3 linked regions of the Homo sapiens genome follow. The protein of the gene in region 1 purifies or fractionates together with the protein of each later gene. This does not show direct contact. Each region holds a gene or a part of one and is shown in the gene's direction. Other genes may lie near its edges.

What was found. Proteins that work in one complex are often made in the same cells at the same time.
Region 2: the proteins of SDHAF3 (region 1) and SDHB purify together in Homo sapiens (affinity purification with mass spectrometry; 3 studies listed by BioGRID and IntAct, with this or other methods). This does not show direct contact.
Region 3: the proteins of SDHAF3 (region 1) and SDHAF4 purify together in Homo sapiens (affinity purification with mass spectrometry; 3 studies listed by BioGRID and IntAct, with this or other methods). This does not show direct contact.

The regions. Positions count from the first base shown.
Region 1 is NC_000007.14:97,113,285-97,120,720, forward strand, and holds the start of SDHAF3 (succinate dehydrogenase assembly factor 3, mitochondrial precursor), read left to right. Parts: upstream 1-4,413; 5' UTR 4,414-4,439; coding exon 4,440-4,613; intron 4,614-7,436. UniProt on the Homo sapiens protein: Plays an essential role in the assembly of succinate dehydrogenase (SDH), an enzyme complex (also referred to as respiratory complex II) that is a component of both the tricarboxylic acid (TCA) cycle and the mitochondrial electron transport chain, and which couples the oxidation of succinate to fumarate with the reduction of ubiquinone (coenzyme Q) to ubiquinol.
Region 2 is NC_000001.11:17,030,029-17,037,051, reverse strand, and holds part of SDHB (succinate dehydrogenase [ubiquinone] iron-sulfur subunit, mitochondrial isoform 1 precursor), read left to right. Parts: intron 1-3,906; coding exon 3,907-3,992; intron 3,993-7,023. UniProt on the Homo sapiens protein: Iron-sulfur protein (IP) subunit of the succinate dehydrogenase complex (mitochondrial respiratory chain complex II), responsible for transferring electrons from succinate to ubiquinone (coenzyme Q).
Region 3 is NC_000006.12:70,562,736-70,569,933, forward strand, and holds the start of SDHAF4 (succinate dehydrogenase assembly factor 4, mitochondrial precursor), read left to right. Parts: upstream 1-4,194; 5' UTR 4,195-4,205; coding exon 4,206-4,269; intron 4,270-7,198. UniProt on the Homo sapiens protein: Plays an essential role in the assembly of succinate dehydrogenase (SDH), an enzyme complex (also referred to as respiratory complex II) that is a component of both the tricarboxylic acid (TCA) cycle and the mitochondrial electron transport chain, and which couples the oxidation of succinate to fumarate with the reduction of ubiquinone (coenzyme Q) to ubiquinol.

The DNA.
Region 1 (7,436 bases):
AACAATGGTCATTTTTTTCCTCCTTATATCTTATAGTATATCATTAATACTTTAAATTATAAAATATAACATTTTATCTGGACTTTCGATTGATTTTCTGTTCTCAGTAATCAACAATTATAAACATTTAAAAACATTCCTTATGGTTTGCTTTTTCTCTCCAGATACAAACACATTAAGTTTCTCTTTGATTTTTTTTTTTTTTTTTGAGACGGTATCTCGCTCTGTCACCCAAGCTGGAGTGCAGTGGCGCAATCTCGGCTCACTGCAAGTTCCACCTCCCTGTTTCATGCCATTCTCCTGCCTCAGCCTCCCGTCTCTGGTATTTTTTATGTAACATGTTTCAGAAATTCAGAAAAATGCTAAAGACTATTATGCTTTCTAAACTGACTTTCAGAGAATGGACTTTCCATGAATGTATTTGCTTTTCTAATTCCTTGAACAGTATGTTTAAGCTTGAAATTTTGGTTTTAAGACTATCTGCTATCTTACCATTGCATTTCAATAATTAGACATACCAGATACCATTTAAAAACGTTAAAGAATTCTTTTCTTTTTATAGTTTTAATCGTCACACAATGATGTACCTAACTTTGAGACTCCAAGGTAAGGTGGGAAATGAAAGACAATTTCTGGTGTTGTTTTGGGGGACCATGGGTAGTCGCAATGGCCAGATCAGGTTTGTACATCTCTCTAGGCCTCTAAGCATGTGAGAGCTGTTTGGGTTGAAGATGTATCTTGTCCCAGACTTTTCATTGTTCTCAGTAATTTAGAACTTGAAATTTGAGTAACTATAATTTGAAAACTGAGCCACTTGTGCAACTGAATTCAAGACTGTAAAAACCTTGTTTTCTTATCTAATGATGTAAAGCAGCTTCCAAATCTTTTGTCATCAGTTCTCCCCCTCCCCACTCCTTTCTCACTTCCGTTTGAGAGAAAAATGCTTTAGCATTATTTGCAAGCAAGTCTTATTTTCAACATTTTAGTAAAGACTAGAGTATAATACAAAGTGAAAATTCAGTACACTCCATACAGGTATTTCTTCTCCTTTAATTTATTTTTCCTCATTTACCAATTCTCTCCATCTCTTTTGACCTCAAAATTCTCTATCTGCTTGCCAAAAATTGTCCCTAGCTGCCTCCTTCCATTTCTAGCTGTGTGTGAGGTAGTCCACAGAAGCAATACACTGAATAGTGCAGTTGCTGTGTTGATCATCCCTATGGCTATAGGTGGTTATTATATTTTGTGTGCCCTGAAAGGCTTAGGTGATGTGTTCCATATACAATTTTAAGGCATTTACCCCACGTTTTTCTAAACAAAAAATTTTTAAAGCAATTATTTAAGAGTGGATATATGTTCTCTTTCACTTTACAAAAAATTTTGGAGGGAATCTGAGAGAAGTCATGGTTAGAGATTAGTAAAGTTGGAAAGTACTGCAAATTACCTAACCCAGCTCATTTACAAGTGAGAAAATCTGGGCACAGAGCGGTTAAATCACTTGCAGAGTAACATATAAGAAAAAGAAACACATGAAGGAAGGATAAAGGAAAGGTCTGCATGAAGTGTAGTGATCTAGATTGGTGGCCAGAAATATAAGTGTGATTTTATTTTCAGTTCATGGCTATTTTTACCACAAGAGGAACACTGATCAGCCTAAATTGGTCAGGGAAACAGAGAAAAGTTTTGTCCTCAAAACATAGCTCACTGTCCAGCTTGTTGTAAAAAAAATAAAATAAAGGTTAACTGTCATTATTCTCACTGTTATTGCTTTATTCCACTTCTCAAGGCCTAACCACACCACTATGTCTTGGCTTCTCTTTCACCCATCGTCTGCCATTTTGAGCATTGATTCTCCAATGCTTTGTGGACCCTTTCTACTCTCTTTAGGCTCAATTAATTCCTTTATTTTTTAATTAATTCATTGGCAGAATGTTTTCTCACATTTTTATAAGAGTGTTGGCTCTTGAAAGAGGTATTTATTACACATGTTCTTTAACTCCAAAGGAAACCAGAAAAAAACAAACGGGGACAAGAAATCAATTTTCAATTTTACAGGGATATTAACAGATGAAGTATGGTTAGAAAAAAATTTCCTGAAGCAAAATAACCACGCTGCCATTCAATCCTTGCCATTAATGCAGTTTGTCATAATACCAAATTAAATCCATTTTTAAAAAGTTCTGTGTTTTTTAAAACACATATTTTCCCTAAATTTAAGCAAAAGGAGAAGCTCTATTCAAAGCAATAAATTCTACTTACTATTTGTATGGCACTGTGGTGGGCCCTGAAAAGGATACTAAAATGAGTAAGTACCTGCCTTCAGTAGCTGAGTGTGTCTTGTTTTTCTTTCAGAAAGTTTTTGCACAGAAAGAAGTCTGGGGTCTGTGAGACAATCACACAAATTTCAACATTTCTGCCTCTTCTTCACCAGCAGGAATATGAGGCATCTGACACCGTTAGTGAGTTTCACACATTAATTCAACAGATATTTATTGAGTGCTTACTACAGACCTAGTGCAGGTCACTAACAAATCACAAAATCCCTGCCCCTATAGAATTTGTACTCTAGTTGGGGGATAATAAATGGAGAATAAGCACATGAGTAAATTATGTAAGTAATATAGAGAGAAACAAAGCAGAGGAGGAGCATAAGAAATTCTTGGTTTGGTGAGGTTGCAACTTCAAGCAGGGTTTCAAATAGGGTTGCCAGGGAGGGTCTCATTAGAAGGGGACCTGAAGTATGCGCTGAGTGAAATAAAAGTGTTAGCCAGGAAGATACATTTGGCAAAGCACTCCAAGTAGACGGGACAGCAAGTGCCAAGGCCTCAGTTGGGAGTGTACCTGGCTTTTTAAAATATGAACTAAGAGCTAGGAGGCCAGTGTGGCTGCAACTGGCTAACTAGGGAGAAAGCAATAGGAGAAAATTTAAACCTTTAAGGGCTAGAGACTGGGCTTTACTCTGATGAAAATCCCTGGAGGCTTTTGTTGAGCAGAGGAGTGAAATGATCCGATTTACAGTTTAGATTGTTAAAAGAAAAACTTTAAACAAGTTAAATCTAATAAAGTTTATTTGCACGAGCGCACGTGCACACACACACACGATTTATGAGGCATTCATCAGGCAGCAGCACTTAACAGGGAGAGGTTCAGAGAGCTCTACCCAGCACTGTGGGCAGGCAGTATTTATAGACAGAAAAAGGAAGTGCCCCACAGAAACAGCTTGATTGCTTACAGTTGGGCTAGTCTTATTTGGGCAGGACATTATGACGTATTTGCCTTATATGCACATAGTCTGATCAGTTGGCAGCCTGTGATTGGCTGAAGCTCAGCTACTTGTCACAAGAATATACTCTCAGTTGCAGTTAATTTACATACTAAGTTAGGTTGCAGTTCCCTACATAGCAACTCAGAGTAGGGAGGAAATTTTAGGCCAAATTTAATTTAAATTATGTTGGAGCATGACCAAAGTTGGTCATGACCAGAAGCTGAACACAGATATGGAAGCTAACACAATATCCAGTGGAGAGAGATTGTGGTAGAGTACATGGGGCGAAATGGTTGATTTCTGCATTTTTGTTGGTGACGCCATCAGGATTTGCTGAAGAACCAAACGTGTGACAGGAAAGGACAACACAAGGAGCTGCCAGCTTTGGAAACCAGTTCTACTCTCAGTATTACCTTCGCAAAAGATAGAGCTTTGTAAATTTCTAGATTCCTCGTTCTTATTATCCTAGACTATTTAACCAGAATCTCCAGGGTCGTGGTCCTGGAAACAATACGTTTAAAACTCTTCCCAAGGATCCTTCAGCAGCCAACTTGACTTTGGCTAAGGAGTCCGCCAGCTCTGGGCTCACTTGGGTTGTTTGCAAGGAAGAGCCCATGCCCAGAGTATAAATTGGGAGAACAGCGCTGTGCAAAGAGCGTGGGTTGGTGAGCTAGTGGATGGCGAGATTAATCTCACTCTGATCCCTAAAGCAGGGTGCAGTAATACTCTAAATGCCTCAAATGGGTTGGGAACCATGGAAGGAATCCCGGAGGAGCCCGATCTTAACGAAGCTTTTCTCAGGCCTTTGGTAGGAGGACAGAAACGAAGTTGAATGAAAAAGACAGTGGAGTGGGACTGAGAAATGACAACGGCCCACCACAGACCTCTCTCTTTCAAGGCCTGTGTCGTCAGGACGCAGGCCAGAAGAAGCCACGACGAGGCGCAGGCGCGACTCCACGAGGGCCACGCCCCTCCTAGAGAAGGACCGACCCGTTTTCCGCCCGCAGCGGAGCTTGGGTTTCCGGGAGGACCTGATTGTGCAAGGGACCAAACCGGATAGAGGTCGCGCGCCCTCTTTCGTCTGCCTTCCGGTTCACTAATACGCAAGTTCGCAGAAGTGCGGGAACGCGCCGTCCCTCTGCGCAGGCGCAGTCGGCGGTCGGCGTGGGGCGCTATGCCGGGGCGGCACGTTTCTCGAGTCCGGGCATTGTACAAGCGCGTCTTGCAGCTGCACCGTGTTCTGCCCCCGGACCTCAAATCCCTGGGCGACCAGTACGTGAAAGACGAATTTAGGAGACATAAGACCGTTGGTTCTGACGAGGCACAGCGTTTCTTGCAAGAATGGGAGGCAAGTGACGCTCCCTTCTCTTTGCCCAAGACCTTTGGGGTTCCTCGGTGTCCAGGTTTCTAGTTCCAGTCCCCCATGCGGGGTTAAACAGAGCAGCAACCTGTTCTGTTTGAAATAGCGTAATGCTGTTCAGGTAACACTTTCCAAAGTTTCTCCCACGGGTTTCTCACTAGAGCAGATCCTGTTACTTCAGCGTCCCCAATTCAGTTCAACTTTTGAGCTCCTGCAGATGCCAGGTGCTCAAAGGGTGAGGGTAGGAGGTCACAAAAATGAGCAAGTCGTCGTTAAGTGCTCAAAAACCTCAGGAGCTTTTTGTCCTTTTAAGTGCCTTTGCACCTAGTAAGCGCCCATTAATAAATTAATGGTTCTCTTATTAGTTTTCAAATTTAAAGGCTTATTTCCGTAATTTATTATTTAATCTCAGCGCTTTTGGTTGGGTTTAAATAATTTTCTCACTTGGCTGATACAGAAATCAGGTAACATGAAAAAGATTACAAAAGGTTGGAGATTACAAACTGTGAAGGAGAAAAATGCTGGTGGCAGTTAAGTCAGGCGAAAGTTGTTTCCTCCGGTCTCAAGTCATTGTTACTTCGCCCTGCACCATTGCGCTAAATATTAAACAGACACATGCATTAGCAATAAGTCGTTTGACTTTTTTTTTTTTTTTTTGAGTAAAGGAAAAAAGATATTCAGAGTATTTCGTGGGGCTCGGGGCCCTGCAGGATTGCCCCTAGTTTTCATTTGCAAATATAAATAAATGAATGGAATTAGAGATTGGAATGACAGCTCAGATATTTGAAAGCATGAGTTGGAGCTGATATGAAAATAGAGGTAAGCGGTTCTTCGGCCTAAATAGTTGAAGGGGAGATGACTGAAGTCGGCTTTGTAAAAAAAAATCAAAAGAATGGTTAGGGTGAACACAAACTTTGCACTGACTTCCAGAATTCTTTTTTGTATAATTATTGAAGCTTTTAAGAGCGACATTTAGAACAATCGGGAAATTTAGAACTTTCTTGAAAATCATGGTGTATTTGATGTAATTCGCTTGCCTGAAGCAGGGAAGTTGAAGCTTTTCAGACACAGAGCACTTTATTTTAATAAGGTAATTTGGTTTTGGAGCCTGAAGAACTGGATTCAGATTCAGTCTCTGACATTTTAAGTGTCAGATCACATAATTTTTCTAGTCTTATTTTCTCATCTATAAAATAATAAGTGTTTATGCATCTCAAAATTTACGTATGTAAATGTATTTACAAGCACTTGTGTATTGCTAATTGTTATGAAGCTATAAGATACTGTATTAAAGTATTTTACATCTTTTATGGTAGGTCATTTTGTGGCCGTACAGGAAGGAGAGTAGCTCTCTGTTGGGAGGAAATAAGGTTATTTTAAGAAGTCTTAAAATGTAAGCACATGGAAGCCTCTTTGGGAAAAAGTAGGAAAGAGTAGCAACTCAGAAAAAATTGATAATAGGTTGTAGGAGAGAGAGAGGGTATAAAAAAGAACTGCATAAATAAAAAATGTGTTAGTTGACCTAGTAGGCTTGGTAACTGGGATTGAGCTTTTTAAAACTTGGAATAATTTTAGACATACAGAAGAGTTAGAAAGACAGTAGAGAGTTCCCTACATCCTGTTTCCCCCTGTGTTAGCATCTTACATAATCAGGGTACAGTGATCAAAAACAAGAAATTAACATTGCTACAATGCTGTTAACTACAGACTTTATTTACAATTTGCCAGCCCTTTCACTAATGTCCTTATTCTGTTCCAGGATCCAATGGGGATTCTACAATGCATTTAGTTATTCTTTTTCCTTAATCTCCATTCTGTGACAGTTGCTCCGTCTTCCTATCTTTCATTACCTTGATACTTTTTTGAAAAGTACTAGTCTGTTACTTTGTGGAATGTATCTCAATTTGAGTTTGTCTGATGTTTTCTCATGGTTAAATTGATGTTATGCATTTCATAACATCTCAGTAAGAATACCACATGGGCAAAGTGTTCGCCTCAACACTTAATGTCAGAGGGCACATGATACTAACATGACTTCTTACTGGTGATGATAACTGTGATCACTTGGTTAAAGTAATAATCCACGTGGTGTCTCTACTGTAAACTTACTATTTTCTCTTTTGAAATTAATACATATTTGGGGGTAGGTACTCTCAGGCTTTCAGATGATTACTAGTCTTAGCATTCATTGATGGATTTTGCCATTGTGTTCCAATGGTGGCTCTTTTGTTTCCCTCATTCCTTCTGAATTTATTAGTTGACACGCGTCTGTAGAGAACAGTTTTCCTGTCTTCCCCGACCATTGTTGATCTACTGGAATTAATGAATTGGCAGCTGGGTAAAGATAAATTTAAACGTAGTAATCTCTTTGTATAACATAATTATCACAGTTACAAGGCAGCTTAATCTAAGCCTGGGAGTTAGACGTGGTAGGTTGGATCCTACCAGGAAAGATACTTGAAGAACTGGTCTTTTTGAAAGAGTAGGGCTAGAGAAGATGCTAATGATTGGAGGGGAGAAAAACCTGGCTAGAGAAGTTTTATCACCAGAGAGTAATATACTTAAGACTTCCAAGTCTTTTTCCCCCCCACCTGTTCTTCAAAATATCTAATTTATGATTATGTTATACTAGATACTGCTAGACATGACATGGATTTTTATGCCTTTATTTTTCAGTTAGTGCTCATTACAAACTTGGCACCTGTTGTTTGAATATAACTTAATGGTTACGTTTACATCAAACTAAGAGTAACTGTTGTGGACTTCTAACTTAATATGTAGAGTCTGGTCTACACGATCCCAGTCCCTCAC
Region 2 (7,023 bases), on another chromosome or scaffold:
AAATAGCTATATTCTTTCATTTTCACAACAGCATAATTCTTTTTCTGAAAATACTGGCGTGTAGCAGATATTAGCAGATAAATGTATTTTTCTAGGCTAGGCATGGTGGCTCACACTTGTAATACTAGCACTTTCTTTGTGAGGCCAAGGCAGGAGGATTGCTTGAGGCCAGGAGTTTTGAGACCAGCCTGGGCAACAATAGCAAGACTTAGTCTCTACAGAAAAAATGTGTGTGTGTGTGTGTATACATATATATTTATATATGTATTTATATTTATATATTCATATTTATATAAATATTTATATTTATATATTCATATTTATATAAATATTTATATTTATATATTCATATTTATATAAATATTTATATTTATATATGTAAAACCCTGCTTACCTAGAAAAAAGCCTGTAAGTACTGTTAAAAAAACAAAAATTGGATTTCTATACACTAGCAATGAACAATCCTAAAATGAAATTTAAAAACTATTTTCCATATAACAGCATCAAAAAAGAAATTCTTAGGAACAAATTATATGGGCAATAAGACAAAACCCCATCTCTACAAAAAAAGTTAGCTGGGCTTGATGACCTTCCTGTGCCTATAGTCCCAGCTACTTGGAGGCTGAGGTGGGAGAATCACTTGAGCCTGGGAGGTCAAACCTGCAGTGAGCTGTGATCACAACACTGCACTCCATCCAGCCTGGGCGACAGAGTGAGATCCTGTCTCAAAAATCAAATAAGTAAAAGACTTATATGCTGAAAAACTGTAAAACATTGTTGAAAGAAATTTAAGAAGACATAAATAAATGGAAAGACATGCCCTGTTTGTGGGTTGGAAGACTTAATGTTGTTAAGGAGGCAGTGGTCTCCAAATTGATTTCCAGATTCATTGCAATCCCCATCAAAATCCCACCTGCCTTTTCTGCAGAAGTTGACAAGTTGATTCTAAAAATCTTATAGAAATGCAAGGGACCCAGAATATCAAACAATTTTGGTATCTATGTAAAATCTGAGAAAATTTATGTTGTACTCTTTAATGAGCCCTACCTATTAGGAAATTTAGCATGAAACAGCTTAAAGAGAGGACTTTGACTTTTTAATATTTTTCTCTGTCCCAGTATGATCTGCAGGATTACTTTTTACCTTTGATTTGAATTTATTTATTTATTTATCTATTTATTTATTTATTTTTTTGAGACAGTCTCGCTCTGTCTCCCAGGCTGGAGTGCAGTGGTGCGGTCTCGGCTCACTGCAACCTCCGCCTCTGGGGTTCAAGCAATTTTCCTGCCTCAGCCTCCCAAGTAATTGGGACTACAGGCACGTGCAACCACACCCAGCTAATTTTTTGTATTTTTAGTAGAGACGGTTTCACCACGTTAGCCAGGATGGTCTCAATCTCCTGACCTCATGATCCACCCGCCAAGGCCTCCCAAAGTGCCTCCCAAAGTGCTGGGATTACAGGCGTGAGCCACCCACCTGGCCAATTTGAAATTTTTATAGGCTGCAAATATTAGCCTTTGTAATGTAAAAAAAACAAAGATGTTGTTGTCATTTAAAATATGCTAGGACAAGAACAGGCAGATCATTAGAATAAAAATGTAGCAACAAAACAGACTCAATTTTATCTAAGTTCCCAGTATTAAATATGGGAGAAAGGTATTACAAATAAGAAGCAAAAGAGGATTTAGTCAGTGATTTGGGACAACTGATACAGTTTTTGCAGTTTTAGGGGAGTAACTTAAAATTTTTTTTAAGTAGAAAAAAATGTAAAGTATTTATCAGACCTCAGGAAGGGCAGTGGTCTGTTTAGGCTTAAAAGTGATAGATAATGTTATAAAAGAAAGAATAGCCACCTTTATTAATGTAAACATTTAACTCATGTATGTTTAAAATTCTGTTACCAAAATTAGAAGTCAAATAGCACATTACTATTGGCAGTGAGGGAGGAAGCAGAAATGGCAACAGATATAATATATAAGAGCCTCAGATCATGAAAAAGAATTTCCAAGACCCTGGTAAACAGAGGCAAAGAATGTGGACAGACTGAGTCTCTAGAATGAGTCCTCTGGAACAGAGCTTTGTGCGGGCAGGTGGTATTCGTCTCTTTTATTCTCTGCTACATCCCCAGCATCTAGAACAGAACCTGGCAGAGTAAATGTTCAATAAATAATTGGGAAATAAAGAAAAATTAGTAAATTTATGACAAACATTCAACCTATGTAGTATTCAAAAGTCTCGATTTAAAACACTGAAAACAATAACACTTCTCCAGTATCAGAATAGCAAAGGTTTTTAAAGCTTCCAATTCCCAGTGTTAGCAGAGGTCCAGCAGAAAGGACGTCTACATAGTGCTGATACAAATACAGATAATGGGCCAGACGCAGTCGCTCACACCTGTAATCCCAGCATTTGGGAAGGCTGAGGCAGGTGGATCACTTGAGGTCAGGAGTTTGAGACCAGCCTGGCCAACATGGGAAAACCTATCTCTACTAAAAATACAAAAATTTGCCGGGTGTGGTGGCATGCACCTGTAATCCCAGCTACTCGGGAGGCTGAGGCAGGAGAATCGCTTGAACCCGGAAGGTAGAGGTTGCAGTGAGCCGAGATCGCACCATTGCCTCACACCCATAATCCCAACACTTTGAGAATCCAAGGCAGGAGGATCACTTGAGTCCAGGAGTTAGAGACCAGCCTGGGCAACATGGCGAAATCCCACCTCTACAAAAAAATACAAAAATTAAGCTGGATGTGGTGGCACATACCTGTAGTCCCAGCTACTGGGGGGCTGAGGCAGGAGGATCTCTTGAGGCTGGGATGCGGAGGTTACAGATCTGAGATCGTGCCACTGCACTCCAGCCTGGGTAACAGAGCAAGACCCCGTCTCAAGAAAAAAAAGAAAAAAAATGAAATACAGATAGTACTAAAGGAAATGACGTATTTTTAAGTATATTTTTAATCTCATGCATAGAAAATTAGTGAGTGGAATGGGGGCAGGGTGGCAACCAGAAAATAGATTTGTGGAGCACTTACTGTATGCCAGGTACTATGAAAAATTACATATTTTTATGTAATTTTCACAGTAACCCTGTGGTGTAAATATTAACTCTACAGATAAACTGAGGTTCAGAGAGTAATTTCCGTAGAATCACAGTTTCTGCATGATGATTATTATAGTTAAACTATGATTTATATGTCAGATGCTGCTGTAAAGATCTCGTGTGTATTAACTCACCTCCAGCAATCCTGTGGGATGCAGGTGCTGCTCTCTGCACTCAGTGGATTAAATGCCTAGGCAGAAATTAAATCATTTGCCTGCAAGCTGGTAAGTGGCTCAGCCATGGTGCAGACCAGTCTCTTGGCTGCCAGGCCGGCACTCCAGGTCCCACGCCCAGGGATGCTCCGCTTAGTACCATGTCACTGCCCTTGTATGTTCTAGGAGGCTCACAGTGATTTGACTGGGGGACTGTGAGTGATTGGGTGTCTTTTATTCTCTGTACTATGTCTTCTCTTATGGTTATGTATTATTAATTACTATTTAAAACTATTGTCTACATCCTAAAAATCAAACTAAAATTTGAAATAAATTATTTGGAAAAACTTTGCAGGGAGCTTCAGAAGTAAAAAACAAAAACTCGGCCACTGTATGGAAGTTGTGTCATACTTGTCTACTACTACTTTAGCTTTCCATTTCCTAGAAATGTGTTTGCACTGTGATCATCAAAATAGAACTGTGCAGTACTTAAAATGTAAGAATCTGCAAAAACAAAACTACAGAACAAATTCCGAAGGTGACCTGAGAAGACCAAATGGATAAGCTAATACATCCAGGTGTCTCCGATTATATTATGATAAAGTGTAGGGAGGTTGAACGTTACATAAATACCACTGGATATTTTTCTTTGTTAGATGTGGCCCCATGGTATTGGATGCTTTAATCAAGATTAAGAATGAAGTTGACTCTACTTTGACCTTCCGAAGATCATGCAGAGAAGGTGAGCATTTCATTCCTGTTGGGCTCCAGATACTTGTGGTCTTCCAAAGAGGCTTGGGCTGGCCAAAGCTGATAGAGACATCTGGAAAACAGCTGCAGCTCTCTGCTGGGTGAACTTGCTGTGCAACCTAATTCCTTTTCTTGGGTAAATGCATCCAAAATTCTAACCATGGTGCAAGTTCTGGTTTCTGAGTTTACTTTCCTTCAGGAGCATTCTATCCTGTGGTTACTGCATCTGGCGGTCCCTGTGAGCTGCTCCACGCTTCAAGGCCTAGCTAGGACCTGCTGGCTGGCACCTTCCATGCTGCTGAGCTCTTTTATTAAGGGAGCAGTGGAGAGTTTCTGTCTGGCACTTATGCTTGTCCAGCAGGGGAGATGTGTGAGTCTCCCTCAGCTCCCAGCATGACATGTCCTTGGTAGCTGTGTTCTGGATTGGCTGGTACAGTGTCTCCCTCAGCATGTGGTTACTTGTGCTGCTGGTGCCACATGAGCCCATTTGAGGCAGTGTGCAGACTAACATTTTCTACATGAATAGCAATGTATTCATTTTCTGTATTAGAAAAATATAATTACTGCCGGGTGCGGTGGCTCACACCTGTAATCCCAGCACTTTGGGAGGCCGAGGCGGGTGGATCAGCTGGCGTCAGGAGTTCGAGATCAACCTGGCCAACATGGTGAAACCTTGTCTCTACTAAAAATACAAAAATTAGCCGGGCGTGATAGCGGACGCCTGTAATCCTGGCTACTCGGGAGGCTGAGGCAGGAACCCGGGAGGTGGAGTTTGCAGTGAGCCAAGATCACGCCACTGCACTCCAGCCTGGGCAATAGAGCGAGACAGTCTCAAAAAAAAAAAAAAGAAAAATATAATTACTAATGATGGTATAATAGGGATATAAGTGGTTTTTTAATGTGAATTTAAGCAAAACAAGTTAAAGAAAACCCAAGAGATACTTTAAAGAAAGTTGATTCAGGTGGTTCTCAGGTATAGCAAAAATTGCACAGGGTGCAGTGAAGACCGACTGGCCTGATGTCCGTGGAGCCAGACTGTGTGCCCGGCTCTGTTCTGTGCACTGGACATGAGGTAGATGACTGTGCTTATTATCTACCTTCAATTTAAAGGTGAGGCCCAGAGAGGGTAATGGACTTCCACAAGGACACATAGAGAGTGACTTGAGAGCCGGGAGTCAGCCAAAGCTGTCAGACTCCAGACTCCAGATCTGCTCTCTCAGGCACTGACTTGGCTTGGAACACCTGGGATAAAACAAAAGCAGAGAGTAGCTTGATTCTGTGAGGACACTGAGCTTTTTTCTAAGAAAACCTTAAAAAAAAAGGAAAAGCCAGTATTGATACCGGCCCATGGCTTTTTATCTGTTCAGCTGTACATTTCAAGCATTTCAAGTCTTTTAAGACATCTGTTTTGATTCAGCTAATCTTATTTAGCGTTGCAAATGCTGATGGATATTATGATAGTTCGGCTGAGTCCTGCTGTTCAGGGAACATTCTGCGGCAGTTAAACAGCAGCCTTCCCCATTAAGTCCTGGCAACACAGGAAAGGTAGATGCTTTTCAGTAACCTTTCCCTGTAGGACTCTTTCAGAACCAAGAACATAAGGTGTGACCCATCTGGACTAAAAAAAATAAAGCAGAATTGTATCAATTGCTACTCCTTTTTATTCCCATCTTGTTTTTCTTATTTTTTTTTTAATTCCCATCTTGTAAGAGAATTCCCAGGGAGCCTTTTTGAGAGAAAGTTCATTGGATTTATTTTTTTAATTTTTATGCCATTTCTTGTAAAAGCAAACTGCTCTAGTTGGATGCCAGGTATACATAAATGTATTGATAATATCCAGTCTCTTGGGGAACTCTAGGAGTATTTGCTTAAGACACATCTTTGGGTTCCCTTACACTCTTTCTAAGATTTACAGGAGAAGGAGAGTCTTACTGTCTTTTCTAGTCTTATGAAAGTGATAACCGACTGGGCGCAGTGGCTCACGCCTGTGATCCCAGTACTTTGGGAGGTCTAGGTGGTAGGCTAGCTTGAGGCTAGGAGTTTAAGACCAGCCTGGGAAACATAGACTCCCTTTCCATTAAAAAAAAAAAAAAAAAAGGTGAGGCCAGGCATTCAGAGGCCGAGGCGGGCAGATCACAAGGTCAGAGTTCGAGACCAGCCTGACCAACGTGGTAAAACCCCGTCTCTACTAAAAATACAAAAATTAGCCAGGTGTGGTGGCGGGCGTCTATAATCCCAGCTACTCAGGAGGCTGAGGCAGGAGAATCACTTGAACCCGGGAGGCAGAGGTTGCAGTAAGCCGAGATCGTGCCACTGCACTCCAGCCTGGGCGACAGAGCAAGACTCCATCTAAAAAAAAAAAAAGATGATAACCAGTGCAACTTTCTCAAGCAATCAGGTTTCTCTGACCTAATGATCTTCAAAAAACAGCTTCAGAGGACTGGCACTAGAGGTTTAGAGTACATAATCATTTTTAAATTCCAAAACACCCAGGAAATTTCCATATACAGGAAGTAGGTCCAGGCTAAGAAAATTCTCATGTCGGGGTCCTGGGTCAGCACGTTTTTTGTTTAGTTTGCTTTGCTTTGCCTCAGTTTCATATTAGTTCATTCTTCTCCTCTTTGGAAAGTCCATGCTGAGTCAGCTTTTGTGGATTTCATAGCCCCAGGGTACTATGCTGCGTATTTTATGAAGACAATAGAAGAAGCCTTACCTCTGTCAAGTGTAGTGGCTCAGGCCTGTAATCCCAACACAGTGGGAGGCAAAGGCAGAAGGATTACTTGAGGCCGTGAGTTAGAGACCAGCCTGGGCAATATAGTGAGACACCTGCTCTACAAAAAACAATTATTTTTTTCTTTTTTTTGAGATGGAATCTTGCTCTGTCACCCAGGCTGGAGTGCAGTGGCGCGATCTCTGCTCACTGCAACCTTCTCCTCCTCAGTTCAAATGATTCTCCCGCCTCACCCTCCTGAGTAGCTGGGATTACAGGCACCCACCACGACTTATATTTTTAGTAGAGACAG
Region 3 (7,198 bases), on another chromosome or scaffold:
AGCCTGGGCGACAGGGAGACCCCCCAACTCAAATATATATATACATATGAAATAAGAGAAAATTTTATAAACATGCATGAGCCAGTGAGGAAGAAAACAAAATAGAGCAGGGCTTTGCAATGTCCGTGCCAAGAATTACCTAGACTACTTTAAAAATACACATTCTAGGACCTTATTACGGACCACCTGAATCAGAATTTTCAGGATAGTGTAAAAGCAGCAGCATGTTTTATGTCCCAAATTTCTCTAATAACACGTCGCAAATACAGTACTTAGTCCTGTCAGTGGTCGTGAATCTAGATGGTTATGACTTCTCACCACTGCCAACTATTTTCTGTTTTCTTTATGTTCAAGCAGCACCTCTGCTGATCAGATTTATGTATCCAGTGGATGACAGAGGATCTGAGGTGTGGGTGGTCTTGCCTATATATGGTTGTAATAGTCTTATATGTAAATGTTACCATTCAGCATGGTATTTTTTAAAATAAAATATAAAAACATGGTATTGTGAGGAGGGATTCCAGGAGACCCCCCTGACTTCTGGTTATACTGTTCTCCCTACTCTCTTTTCTCCATGGTCATCAGGGCCAATCACTCCAGCTAGCACCATCACCACTTTCTCTAACCTTACCTAGAGGAATGAGGTCAAAATGGCTGGGTGGCAATTCCAGCTGGGCACAAAAATTGCTATACCAACAGAACCTGGACTCAGAGATGGCTAGCAAGAGTAGTGAAGGGTCTGAGATTTTATCCTACTTGCAAGGTTACAGGCTAGGTTGCTGCAGTTTCATGGATGATGACAGGATACTCCTGGACAAAAGACAAAACAGCTTTATTACAGCAAAATAGAAGCCAGAGTGTCCGCATATTTGCATCAGTTCCCGTAGCCCAATTCCCACAGTGTGATGCAGAGGGCCGGATGACGTCTGTGCACATGGGGGGTTGCATTACAGAAGAATCCAGGATCAAGAATCAAGCAGTTTTTGAGCAAACAACAAACAAGCTAGTCTCTCTCCCCCAGGGAGCAGCAGTTAAATGGTAGTAATGCTGTGATTGCCTTGACCTACTTAGGTGCCTATATGACTAACTACAGAAACTGCTTAGCATCAGGAGATGGATACGGCTTGCAGTCTGGCACACTCAGTAATAATATACAGGCATGTTCAGGGGCCTTCGGAGCTTGTCTCTTCTCTACTACAATGGAAAGCAAAATATATTTTATATCAGTAAGTCATATGCAATAGTAAGAAGTCAGACCCTTTTCTACTCTTTGATCTCTGTTATTCTGTCAACAGAAGATATATCACCAAATACCGTTGACTCATTTGGAAAATATGACAAATCCTTTAGGGCAGTATCCCAAAGTGTATTTTCTCACCTCGTTCCAAAACAACCTTCAATAAGGCTGTCCGTCATTCCATAAAATCGGTTGCTTTTGGATGATGGAATATATAAGACTGTGAATCCTGCAGGCATTAGTCCCCTGCTTTACATCTTTCACAAGAAAATGAGTTCTTCGGTAAGAAGCAATGTTGTATATGATATTGTATTAAATATGGAGTAGTGTGTTAAGGTATTCAGTAAGTCCACAGGTGAAGTATATAATAAGCATAAATCAGGGAAAACAATCTAAATGCAGAATAATTGTCTCTTCCTGTAAGAACAAATTGCAACCTCCTTCATAACAGTAGGATTTCATTGTAATCAGACCTGCCACCCAGACCACATAAAAGTGTATCATGGGATCAAGTTGGTCACTGCAGTTGGCGAGTAGTGGTAGTAGCCAATCAGTCATGGCAGAAGAAAGACGGTGTTAAAAGTACATGTATGTCTCCATTCTTGCCACCGTGGCTACCTTGTTACTGAGTCCACACCTGTTGTGGGGGAAGGAGGCTGAGTAATTGATGTCCACAGAATGGGTCACTGTTGCAGCCCTTGTGTAATCCCCTTTTGAGAGTGGCCGGGACCTAATAATAGGATACAGTGGAAGTGGTGGGATGTCGCTACCGAAATGAGATTACAGAAGTTCAGGGCTTCCATTTTGAGTGGTCTTTCTTGCTCCTTAGTTCATTTGTCCTGTGGAAAGCCAGCTGCCATGTTGCAAGATAGCCTTTGGAGAAGCCCACTTAACAAATAACTGAGAAGGTTTCCAGTCCAAAGTCCACAAGGAACCAAATCTTGCCAATAATCATGTGAATGAGCTTGGAAGCAGATCTTCCCTTAGTTGTGCATTTATACGAGACTGGGACTTCAGCCAACAGCTTGGCTGCAACCTCATTTAGGACCCAGAACCACAGTCACTCTGGCTTCTAGGTTACTGATCCACAAAAACTGTGAGAGAATAACTGTTTATTGCTTTAAGCCAATAAATTTTGGGATAATTTGTGAGGCAGCAATAGATAACTAATAATCTTGTTCTGATTAAGAGCCCTTCTGCAATGGAAGCTCTTTTTTTTTTTTTTTTTTTTAACGTTCAATAGGACCCAAATGTTTTCATGCTTTGGGACCACTTTGAGAGGTCCTATTCCAAAGACCCAGTCCAAAACTTTTACATTCCCAGTTCCCAGCCACTTGACAAACCAGTCACTGCCTATGAAATGTCGATTTTTATCTCAAGCCATGTCTCTTTTTAGGCAAAGCATACAAGATAAGCTAAATTCTGGCCAGGCACAGTGGCTCACACCTGTAATCCCAGCACTTTGGGAAGCTGAGAGGGGTGGATCCCTTGAGGCCAGGAGTTTGAAACCAGCCTGGTCAACATGGCGAAACCCTGTCTCTACTAAAAATAGAAAAATCAGCCAGGTGTGGTGACATGTGCCTGTAAAAACATAAAATACATAAATAAGCTAAATTATGCATGCTGGAAATAATTTTTTTTCCCTGTTCTGTTCCTTCAGGGCCTCTGTTAAGTGGGGCTCTAAATATGAAAAGCAGTCAGTTGCCAGCTGGGCCAGTTTATTGAGCAAAGCCATCATCCGACTTTGAATTTTTTCCTCAGTCAGCTAGTCACAAGGAATTCATTATTAAACTGTAGATATAAGCTAAAGGTCAAAAGCATGATATTAGGACTGTGAGCTCCCTACAAATGAAAACTGTTTCCGTTTTGACTTTGGCCCAGTTCTGTGTATCCCACTTTCTCTCTTTTTTCTTTTTCTGTTTTTGAGATGGAGTTTTGCTCTGTCTCCAAGGCTGGCGTGCAGTGGCGTGATCTCTGCTCACTGCAATCTCCGCCTCCCGAGTTCAAGCGATTCTTCTACCTCAGCCTCCCAAGTAGCTGGGATTACAGGAATGTGCCACCTCGCCCGGCTAATTTTTGTATTTTTAGTAGAGTGTTGGCCAGGCTGGTCTCGAACTCCTGACCTCAGGTAATCTACCCGCCTCGGCCTCCCAAAGTGTTCGGATTACAGGAGTGAGCCACCTTGCCCGGCCCACTTTCTCTTCGTAAAAGGATCTCCTTATCTAGGAGAACCAGATAATTCTCAGTTCATGATAAGAAGCTTCGATCGTATAACCACTTGATGTCACATGGTCAGACACTACCAAGGCGCAATAGCTAGCCAGAAACTTTTCTTTAAAAGAAAAGACAAAATTCCAGAATTCTGGGGGCCTTCACTATGATTCTGTAAATATTTCCACGAGTTGCACAAAGCATCCAGGTCTGCCACATCCACTCAACGCTATCAGAGCTGGTGGGATGTAAGGGTTAAGGGGCAGAGCTCATTGCACTGGATCCTGGCCTGGATGGAGAGCCTTTTCTTGCTTTGCACCTCATTCAAAAATGTCGCCTTTCATATCATCTGGTTAGTCGGTCAGAATGGACGAACTAGGAGCTGACTGAACAAAGATTTAAAACACAAAACAGGGAGAATTAGGTAAAAGAAGCATTTTACATGAGTGAGAGAGTAAAAGGTGCTCAATCTTTGTAAACTATAAAAGGGATCTTCCACGGGCCATTTCGGCTCAGACTGACAAGCATGAACGGAACGGAATTATTCCCTCTTCTAACTGCAGCCACGATTTGGCGTTTTAACACCGGGCTCAAGGTAGCCTGGGTCTCTCTTGGCCAAAGAGCCCAGGGATGCCTCTAACTCCTTTTCTAAAGCCGGCCACGGAGGCCCCGCCCTCTGCAGGGAGGCTCCGGATCATGCCCCCTGCTCCTCCCACTACTGCTTTGCGCCTGCGCGGAGGCTCGGGGAGTCGGCGCCATGACCCCATCGAGGCTTCCCTGGTTGCTTAGCTGGGTCTCGGCCACGGCGTGGAGAGCGGCAAGTAAGCACCTGGCCTCGGGGCCACGGTCGCGGGAGGGGTCGTGAAGGCCCAGGCGCAGAGAGAAGCGCCTCCCGCGGAGGAAGCCGCGTGTGTCCTGGCCGTTCGGTGTTGCCAGGGGCTGCCCAGCTTCTCCCGCCCAGCCGCCCACCCGGTGGCCTGGGCAGGTTCCTGCAGCGCCCCGGGTCTCGGGTGGGACTAGAGCGAGAAAATCGCTAAGGCCCTTTCAGCCCCCGGGACGTCCGCTTCCTACCGAGCACGCGGTGGCCCAACAGGACCACAAACGTTCCGGGTTGTTCCTGTGGGAGCTCGCAGGGCACACCGCACTTCGATGCCCCAGAGAAAAATGGAAAAGAAGGCCCTTTGGGAATGGGAGTCATTGATTTACTTATTTATTTACATCATTATTTACAGGAATCCGCGCTCCTGGTCCAGGCTCCAGCAGAAAAGGATTTGTGGCAGTTTACAGTTTATCTTTTAAAAATGGGAAAAGTGCAGAAGTGAGCCAAAGGCAAATAAGTATAACGTAAATTAGATGAAGCCAGGAATTGTCAGTACAGAAAAAGCATTCATGCTTTCAGTAAAACCAACATTTTTAAACCCATTGTTGTTGGAAATTTTTCTCAAGATAATACAGTTAGCAGCCCAGACTATGCAAAACATAATTTTATTTATTTATTTATTTATTTGTTTATTTATTTTGAGATGGAGTCTCGCTCTGTCCCTCAGGCTGGAGTGCAGTGGCGCAATCTCGGCTCACTGCAAGCTCTGCCTCCCAGGTTCACGCCATTCTCCTGCCTCAGCCTCCTGAGTAGCTGGGACTACAGGCGCCCGCCACCGTGCCTGACTAATTTTTTGTATTTTTAGTAGAGACGGGGTTTCACCGTGTTAGCCAGGATGGTCTCGATCTCCTGACCTTGTGATCCGCTCGCCTCGGCCTCCCAAAGTGCTGGGATTACAGGCGTGAGCCACCGCGCCCGGTCCGCAAAACATAATTTTAATATATGACACCTGGAGAAGTTATGTAAGTTGAAAACAGTAATTATTGCCCTCAAATGGTGCCAGATTTCTATGCAATTTGTTTTCCTTTGTGCAATCATTTTACCCAAATACAAACATTTTACTTAATTGTATAAGTTTTAAATAGTCCAGAAATGAATAATACAGAAAGTGAAAGTCCTACATTATCCAAACCTCAAGGTAATAACGTTAAAATTTTGTAGGGTTCATTCAACATCCCCCTTTAACTAGTTTTAAACAATTATGAATTATTCCATATATATATATGTATACACACACACACACGTAGCACACATGTAAGCTATGTAGCAGTCATGTAAGCTATGAAGCACAACCAGCATCTATGAACTTATACTCCAATTTAAGAAATAGTCTCTATTGCCAAGGAGGTCTCTATTTGCTGCTTCCTGATACAACTGTGCAATGGTGTTTTTAATCTTTATAGAAATGTTTTCATATTGTTGATTTTTTTTCAGATAACGCTGTGTTTTGTGATTGAGTCACATTGACGCATGAGGTTGTAGTTATTCATTCAACTGTGTGAACATATGATGCATTTTCCAGTGCCCTTCTCAAAGGACATTTGGGTAATTCCAGAAACACTAGGATTGGGTGCTACACATTCTTGTGTACCTTATTTGTGCATTAGTGGAAGGAGTAGAATTCCTGGAGTATGTTATAGGTCTTTTCATTGTTACAATATAATGCCAAGGTGTAACGGCATTTTCTAATTCTATAGCAATTTTCACTTCTACCAGCAGTGTATTGGAGTTCTGTTGTTCCACAAACTTGCCGAAACTTAATTTTGCCTTAGGTTTTAATTTTTGGCTGCCTACAGGGAAATGAAATGACACCTCATTGTGATTTTGCTTTTCTCTGATTAAAGAAGTAAAACATCTTTTCAAATATTCACTTTTTGTGAAATACCTCTTTCTTTTTTCTTTTTTTTTTTTTTTTTTTTTGAGGCGGAGTTTCGCTCTGTCGCCCGGGCTGGAGTGCAGTGGCGCGATCTCGACTCACTGCAAGCTCCGCCTCCTGGGTTCACGCCATTCTCCTGCCTCAGCCTCCCGTGTAGCTGGGACTACAGGCGCGCGCCACCACGCCCGGCTAATTTTTGTATTTTTAGTAGAGACGGGGTTTCACCGTGTTAGCCAGGATGGTCTCGATCTCCTGACCTCGTGATCCGCCCGTCTCGGCCTCCCAAAGTGCTGGGATTACAGGCGTGAGCCACCGCACCCGGCCTCTTTTTTCTTTCTTTGTTTTTGAGACGGAGTTTCACTCTTGTTGCCCAGGCTGGAGTGCAATGGCGAGATCTCAGCTCACTGCAACATCTGCCTCCTGAGTTCAAACGATTCTCCTGCCTCAGCCTCCCAAGTAGCTGGTATTACAGGCGCCCACCACCACACCCAGATAATTTTTTGTATTTTTGGTAGAGACAGGGTTTTGCCATGAACTCAGGTGATCTATCAGCCTCGGCCTACCGAAGTGTTGGGATTACAGGCGTGAGCTGCCACGCCCGGCCTTTTTTCTTAACAGATTGCTTCTTATTTATATTCTTTACATATATTTGTATGCTAAACCTTTTTTAGTTACGTAAGTGTCAAATACCTCAATTTGTGGTTTGTTTCTGTCACTGCTAGGCAGAATAGAATAACGGGTCTGCATGTGTAATCATGCAGCTTCAATATAAAAGGTATCTTAATAAACAGATGTTTATAATTTTATCTATAAAATTTTGTCTTGATCCTTTTGTTTATTGTGACTGCCTTGTGGTCTTGTCTAAGAAACCCTTCTGTACCCTAAAGTCATGGACATAATCTCTTATATTTTCTTCTCAAAGGTTTATAGTTTTGCTTTTCACATTTAAGCCTTTATTCTACCAGGAATTGATGGTTTGTATATGGTGTGAGGC